Linked DNA regions of Homo sapiens. The protein of the gene in region 1 purifies or fractionates together with the protein of each later gene. This does not show direct contact. Each region holds a gene or a part of one and is shown on either strand. Other genes may lie near its edges. The genes, in order: GON4L and RNF10.

Region 1 (3,500 bases):
CGTTCCTCCCTTTGTTCCTATTTTTATGACGATAAGTCCAGGACTACTGGGATATCCCTCATGTTTAGCCTCCTATTCTGCAACATTTCACGTTACCATACCACAGTGGCCTTCCCAGACCGCTGTGTATAAAACCACCCCTCTAGTTTCCTTTCCTGCTTTATTTTTCTGTAAAACATGATCACTATAAAACATTGTATACTATATATTTTGCTGTTTATATTTATTTTTATAATTTATATTTTATATATTATATATATATATATATGATATATATATATATATGTTTTCTGGAGTATCATCTGAATTTCCTCATGATAACGTAAGCTCCACGAGGGCAGGAATTTTAGTCTTTTGTAATTACTATATTCCTAGCAATTGAGGTCAGGAATTGCTAGGAATTCCTGACAGTTAGGAGGCACCTAACAAATATTTGTTAAATGAATGTCTGGCTTGATACCAGTGAGAAGCAGAGAGCATATGACTCACCTAAGGTGTCCTTTGGCAACTATAGGTAAAACCCTCTCATTTATCATGTAAAGAAAATGGGAGAATGGGATTGGAAAGATAATACCCTGAAAAGACAGAGGCTTTTATCACTCTGGGCTAGGGGATGGCTGTGTGTCTGGAAGGAGCTGGGAGACTGAAAGAGTCTTATTCAACCCCATTCAATCCCAGTCTCACTCTGACCCAGGAGTCCCAGTGTACTTTTTTTCCCCATTCACTTACTAATCCACAGGCCAGAGCTTGCTCAGGTAACAGGAAAGCAGCAAAGTCTTTCAACAGCTGAGGCCAGTCTTGGAGCAGAATTTGCAGGCTTTTGTAGAGATCTACAGCCGTCCGTCTCTGGGTACTTGACTCAAATTCATAGATGACTTGAAGGAAGTCTTCATACTTGCCAGGGATATGTTGTAGGGCTTCTCGCACCTACACGGGAAGACTTTCAATCATCAACACCCTTTATTTGGGCCACAACAAGCAATAAGGGTACAAGGGAGAAGGCAGGGTTATGGTTAGAGAGCTCCAAGAATTATCCATCAGAGGCTGTGCCTCCAACAGATCTTAACATCTGACTGTTAATGGAAGACACAGAGCAATAGGCAAGGTAAAGATCTTTTTCTGGGAGTGAGCAAGTGAAAAATCATCTTCCACGTTCCACAGTTCTACCCACAAAACCAAGCAATGCTTTTCTCTAGGTCACAGCCCTAACCTTTCCTTACTGATTACAGCCCCATAATGAAATAGGTAACATGTGTTTGTACATGTATTTCAGCATGGGCGTAATTTGAGAGTAAATAATACATAAGTTAGGAATGTCAGTAAAACATTAGGAGATAAGAAAAAGCTATGACTATCATTGCCAGTATTCTGCTTTCCAGGGGGATAAAGGAATCAGGTGGTTACCAAGAGAAGGACACAGTTCTCCAGGACACTACCAAGAAGTGGTTAGCTTATGTGTGGTTTTTTTTTTTTTTTTTTTTTTTGAGACAGGGTCTCATTCTGTTGCCCAGGATGGAGTGCACTGATGCAATCATGGCTCACTGCAGTCTCAACCACCTGGGCCCAAGTGATCCTCCCACCTCAGACTCCCAAAGTACCTAGGACCACAGGCATGCACCACCATGCTTAGCTCACTATTTTTTTTTTATTTTTGTAGAGATGGAGGTCTCCTGTGTTGCCCAGGCTTGTCTTGTCTTGAACTCCTGGACTCAAGGATCCTCCTACCCCAGCCTCCCAAAGTGCTGGCATTATATGCAAGGGCCACAGCGCCCAGCCTGGTTCATTTTTTTTTTTTTTTTGAGACAGAGTGTCGCCCTGTCACCAAGGCTGGAGTGCAGTGGTGCGATCTCGGCTCACTGCAAACTCCGTCTCCCAGGTTCAAGTGATTCTTGTGCCTCAGCCTCCCCCGTAGCTAGGATTACAGGCGCCCACCACCACACCCGGCTAATTTTTGTATTTTAGTAGAGACAGGGTTTCACCATGTTGGTCAGGCTGGTCTCTAACTCCTGACCTCAGGTGATCCACCCACCTCGGCCTCCCAAAGTGCTGGGATTATAGGTGTCAGCCACCACGCCCAGCTGGTTCATGTCTTAAGAGCAATGTATTTTCCTGAAATCCACTTGCTGGCCAGTGTACCCACTATCTTTCTTCTCAAGCCAAAGGTTCTATAAAGGTCCTTATCAGCGCACCCAGTAAAGTCACAACCTCCCACTGATGATGGTGGTATCATCTTTCTGCCAATCTCTGGTCAACAGAAGGATGATGGCAGGGTACTAACAATAAACATACTTATGATTGAATTCTATGTCTCCTTGTGGTTCTGTCACAGAGATCTTTTGCCAGAAAAGCCAAGATAGAGGAATATGAAGCCTGTTGCATAGCCTGAAAAACAGACTTTATGTTGAAAAACATCTCCCTTGAAGAAGCAGCCACATTCATAGAGACTGGCAATAACAGGAAGCAGCATTTGCCTACCCTGGTCAGATAAGCTTGGGCAAAGGCCAAGTCCTTCTGCTCCCTGAGTGGATCTCGCTCGAGAATGTCCTCATCATACAGCAACAGCAGCTTGGAGGTGTCCTTGCTGGCCCGAGCCCGACTTCCCCGCTTGTTGCGAGCTCGATGATTGTTCCGGCCTTTTCCAGCAGCTTTGATGCTCTCTCCTTGTAGCACACATGAAAAGGATTGTTTCCCTGTCCCTGCAACCTGTGTTCTTCCCATTCCACCACATGCACCACCCCAGCCAAATCCTATTCAATATTATGGAGCAATTCAAGGAAAAGGTTTTTGGGAAAATGGTATGAGAACTAAGTCCGTCAAGTCAGTTCTACGCAGAGTCTGCAGTGTAACTGCCTTAATTGGGATGACAACAAGATAATCAGCTACTTCATATTGAGAAAGGAAGTCTAAAGAGCAAGTGTGGCTTCTGTAGTGCTTTTGAGAGACTATGTCTTGATGAGGAACAAGCAGTGTTTTCTGAAATAAACATGGGTCTTAGCCCCACACATGACAGATAAGGTAACAATCAGTTTAACAAAGTGAACTGCCAGGCACAGTGGCTCACGCCTGTAATCCCAGCACTCTGGGAGGCCGAGGCGGGTGGATCATAAGGTTAGGAGTTCGATACCAGCCTGACCAACATGGTAAAACCCCATCTCTACTAAAAATACAAAAATTAGCTGGGTGTGGGGGCAGATGCCTGTAATCCCAGCTACTCAGGAGGGTGAGGCAGGAGAATCGCTTGAACCTGGGAGGCAGAGGTTGCAGTGAGCCAAGATCGCACCACTGCACTCCAGCCTGGGCGACAGAGCAAGACTCCGTCTCAAAAAAAAAATAAAAAAATAAAAAAAAGAAAGAAAGTGAACGAAGCTAATATAAATCTAGCAACGGATGAGAATTGAATTAAAAATTTCTGAGTATCTGTTCTCCACAAAGATACCACATTAAACATGTTTTGGGGGAGGGGTGTTGCAGAAGAGATCCAGAGGGTTTCCTCTGGAAAT
Region 2 (4,027 bases), on another chromosome or scaffold:
GCTGCTAATGGCCTGCATTTGATTTCTAAGTGAATAGATGACAATTTCTGCTGAGGGTTTATTGGTAGATCCTGACAGTCTAGCTTTTTCCTGTCTTTCCTATTTCTAGCTGCCAATTTGTGGTGTCTGAAGACCAAGACTACACAGCTCATTTTGCTGATCCTGATACATTAGTTAACTGGGACTTTGTGGAACAAGTGGTGAGTAGCTCAGCCAAGCCCATAAGCTATGAATGGGAGCACTAAATAAAGGCACTGTGGTGACGCAGCAGCTGTTGGCTGTGTGCACTGCTTGATACCCTTTTCTGCCTGGCCTTTCTATAGATGTTTCCCAGAGGTCAGTTCCTGGTTCTTCCTGGAGTCCATTTTGTGACTAATTGGCTCTGGCCTGTAGGGATGGTGTATGAAAGGCTCTGATCTGAAGATGTGTAAGCTGGGAAGTAGTAACCCCTTACCCTCCTGATCTGGGTTGGGCTCATTACAGGGCCATTGCTTCATTGGCAGCCATTCGTAGCAATCACTATCAAAGTAGGCCTCAGCCTTGTGGCAGGGAGGCACATGAATGAGCCACACAGTTGTACTTTTCTTTTTTGAGAAAGAGTCTCACTCTGTTGCCCAGGCTGGAGTACAGTGGTGTGATCTTGGCTCACTGCAACCTCTGCCTCCAGGGTTCAAGCAATTCTCATGCCTCAGCCTCCTGAGTAGCTGGGATTACAGGCACCCGCCACCACGCCTGGCTAATTTTTGTATTTTTAGTAGAGACGGGGTTTCACCTTGTTGGCCAGGCTGTTTTTGAACTCCTGACTGCAAGTGATCCACCCACCTTGGCCTCCCAAAGTGTTGGGGTTACAGGCGTGAGCCACTCTATCTGGCCCAGTTGTACTTTTTTTTTTTTTTGAGACGGAGTTTCGCTCTTGTTGCCCAGGCTGGAGTACAGTGGTGCAATCTTGGCTCACTGCAACCTCTGCCTGCCAGGTTCAAGCGATTCTCCTGCCTCAGCCTCCCGAGTAACTGGGACTACAGGCACGCACCACCACTCCCAGCTAATTTTTTTTTGTATTTTTTTTTAGTAGAGATGGGGTTTCTCCATGTTGGTCAGGCTGGTCTTGAATTCCTGACCTCAGGTGATCCTCCCGACTTGGCCTCCCAAAGTGGTGGGATTACAGGCATGAGCCATCGTACCTGGCCTCTTTTTTTTTTTGAGACAGTCTTGCTCTGTCGCCCCAGCTGGAGTGCAGTGGCGCGATGTTGGCTCACTGTAACCTCCACCTCTTGGGTTCAAGCAATTCTCATGCCTCAGCCTCCTGAGTAGCTGGGATTACAGGCGTGCACCACTATGCCTGGCTAATTTTTGTATTTTCATTAGAGACGGGGTTCCACCGTGTTGTCCAGGCTTGTCTCAAACTCCCAGCTTCAAGTGATCAACCTGTCTCGGCCTCCCAAAGTGTTGGGATTACAGGCGTGAGCCACCACGCCCAGCTTCAGTTGCACTTTCAAAGCCACTGATGTGTTTTCTACTGAAGTTATAAACTCTAGGTATCCCCTTGTTGGTCCTAGTAGGGTATCTGTTGAAGAATAATAATTTCAAAATGATGGGCACTTTTTCTTTATGAGCAGGGGCTTTTGACCTTAAAGCTTGAACTCTCGCCGGGCGCGGTGGCTCACGCCTATAATCCCAGCACTTTGGGAGGCTGAGGCGGGCGGATCACGGGGTCAGGAGATCGAGACCATCCTGGCTAACACGGTGAAACCCCGTCTCTACTAAAAAAAAAAATTAGCCCGGCGCAGTGGCGGGTACCTGTAGTCACAGCTACTTGGGAGGCTGAGGCAGGAGAATGGCGTGAACCCGGGAGATGGAGCTTGCAGTGAGCCGAGATGGCGCCACTGCACTCCAGCCTGGGTGACAGAGTGAGACTCCGTCTCAAAAAAAAAAAAAAAAAAAAAAAAAAAGCTTGAACTCTCACTACTGTGAAAATGTATAAAATCATCTGAGAATGACATAGCATAAAAACTTAAGTTTTATTAAAAAAAAATGAAGTCTTTTTAATGCGTTCTTTGTTGGAAGTTACTGGTAGATTACTTCTAGACCCTTTTTAGGCCTTTATGCATACATATTAAGTTTTTTTATAAATGGGAATATAGTGATTTGTCACTTTTTTCTATTTAATGTAGAACCCCCAACATACCTGTTGTGTATTAGTTTTATTATATTTAACGGTTATTATGGTTTCCTTGATGCTTTGCTTAAAGAGCTATCATACAAAGCCAGGCGCGGTGGCTCACGCCGGTAATTCCAGGACTTTGGGAGGCCGAGGCGGGCGGATCACAAGGTCAGGAGATCAAGACCATCCTGGCTAACACAGTGAAACCCCGTCTCTACTAAAAAATTAGCTGAGCGTGGTGGCAGGCGCCTGTAGTCCCAGCTACTCCAGAGGCTGAGGCAGGAGAATGGCGTGAACCAAGGAGATGGACCGTCTCAAAAAAAAAAAAAAAAGAAAAAAATGATCATACATGTACCTACGTTGTAAACAATTTTAGAAAGATATGTTGAGTATAAGGATGTACGGGGATAGAGATGAGAGAGATGCGGATGAGAGAGTAGAGAGGCCTAAAACTTTGACAGTCCCTAATCAGTTCTTCAAGCAGTGAACCTTCTGGTGGCATTTTGTTTCAGCGCATTTGTAGCCATGAAGTGCCATCTTGCCCAATATGCCTCTATCCACCTACTGCAGCCAAGATAACCCGTTGTGGACACATCTTCTGCTGGGCATGCATCCTGCACTATCTTTCACTGAGTGAGAAGACGTGGAGTAAATGTCCCATCTGTTACAGTTCTGTGCATAAGAAGGATCTCAAGAGGTGAGATTGAGACATTTACTCAGTTAGATCCCAATCTCTTCACTCCTTGCCCTGCTACATATGAGTGTCCATGTTTCAGTGTTGTTGCCACAGAGTCACATCAGTATGTTGTTGGTGATACCATTACGATGCAGCTGATGAAGAGGGAGAAAGGGGTGTTGGTGGCTTTGCCCAAATCCAAATGGATGAATGTAGACCATCCCATTCATCTAGGAGGTGAGTTCTTTAAATTTTGGGGACAAATAATCCTGGGTACATTCTTTAAGGTGATTGAATATATCTAAGCATCAGAAAGTGAAGCCTTTGGGCAGGGCACATCTGGCATGTTCATATTAGTCATAGGATTCCAGTAGGTTAGGGTGGGGTTTGTAGAGAGTAGATTAATTATTGGTTTCAAGTTTGTTTAATCTATACATCCTAATTTTTCATTTTACAAGGTTTTATTACATAGTGTCTTTCACTGTGCCCAATCTTAGAGGTTCTGTGGTCAGCCAGTCTTGGTGCCTGTCGTCAAGAAACTCAGTAGTCCGATAGAAGAGACAGACTGGTAGACTGGCCATTAGGATAAAGAGTGTGATAAGTGCTCACAATGAATGCCAGAGATGTATTCCCTGTGTTTCATGCAGAAATGAGCATTTGATTAAAATAGCATTTCAGTCTCTGGGGAAAAGATAGATTTCTCAATAAATGGTATTGAAACAATTGATTCTCCCTAAGGAAAAAATAAAATTAGATTCCTATTTCATACCATTCATGAAATTAATTCCAGATAGATTGAAGAAGTAAATGTAAAAAATCCAAAAGTTTTAACCTTTTTATTTAAAAGAAAATATAGGACAATTTCTTTATAAATCCTCAGATGTGCATCTGTCTGAAGGATTGTGTGTTCTCATTTGGGTGGTAAATGTGTGTGTGTAATATTTTTTTCCTAGTGATTTTGACTGTTTAAATGTTTAGCAACTTAAAACATTAAAAATGTGTATTAATTAAAAAAAAATCCTCAGATATGGGTGGATTTTTGAACCAGGCTGAAATGATAGATGCTGTAAAAGACTGATAAATTTTATTTTTATTTTATTTATAGATATATAATATAATATGTATATATATATTTTTTTTTGAGACAGAGTCTGGCTCTGTCACCCAGGCTGGAGTGCAGTGGCATGATC

What was found.
Region 2: the proteins of GON4L (region 1) and RNF10 purify together in Homo sapiens (co-immunoprecipitation; one large-scale study listed by IntAct). This does not show direct contact.

Annotation. Positions count from the first base shown.
Region 1 is NC_000001.11:155,759,715-155,763,214, forward strand, and holds part of GON4L (GON-4-like protein), read right to left. Parts: intron 2,661-3,500; coding exon 2,476-2,660; intron 928-2,475; coding exon 730-927; intron 1-729. UniProt on the Homo sapiens protein: Has transcriptional repressor activity, probably as part of a complex with YY1, SIN3A and HDAC1. Required for B cell lymphopoiesis.
Region 2 is NC_000012.12:120,554,609-120,558,635, forward strand, and holds part of RNF10 (E3 ubiquitin-protein ligase RNF10), read left to right. Parts: intron 1-109; coding exon 110-200; intron 201-2,673; coding exon 2,674-2,858; intron 2,859-2,937; coding exon 2,938-3,074; intron 3,075-4,027. UniProt on the Homo sapiens protein: E3 ubiquitin-protein ligase that catalyzes monoubiquitination of 40S ribosomal proteins RPS2/us5 and RPS3/us3 in response to ribosome stalling.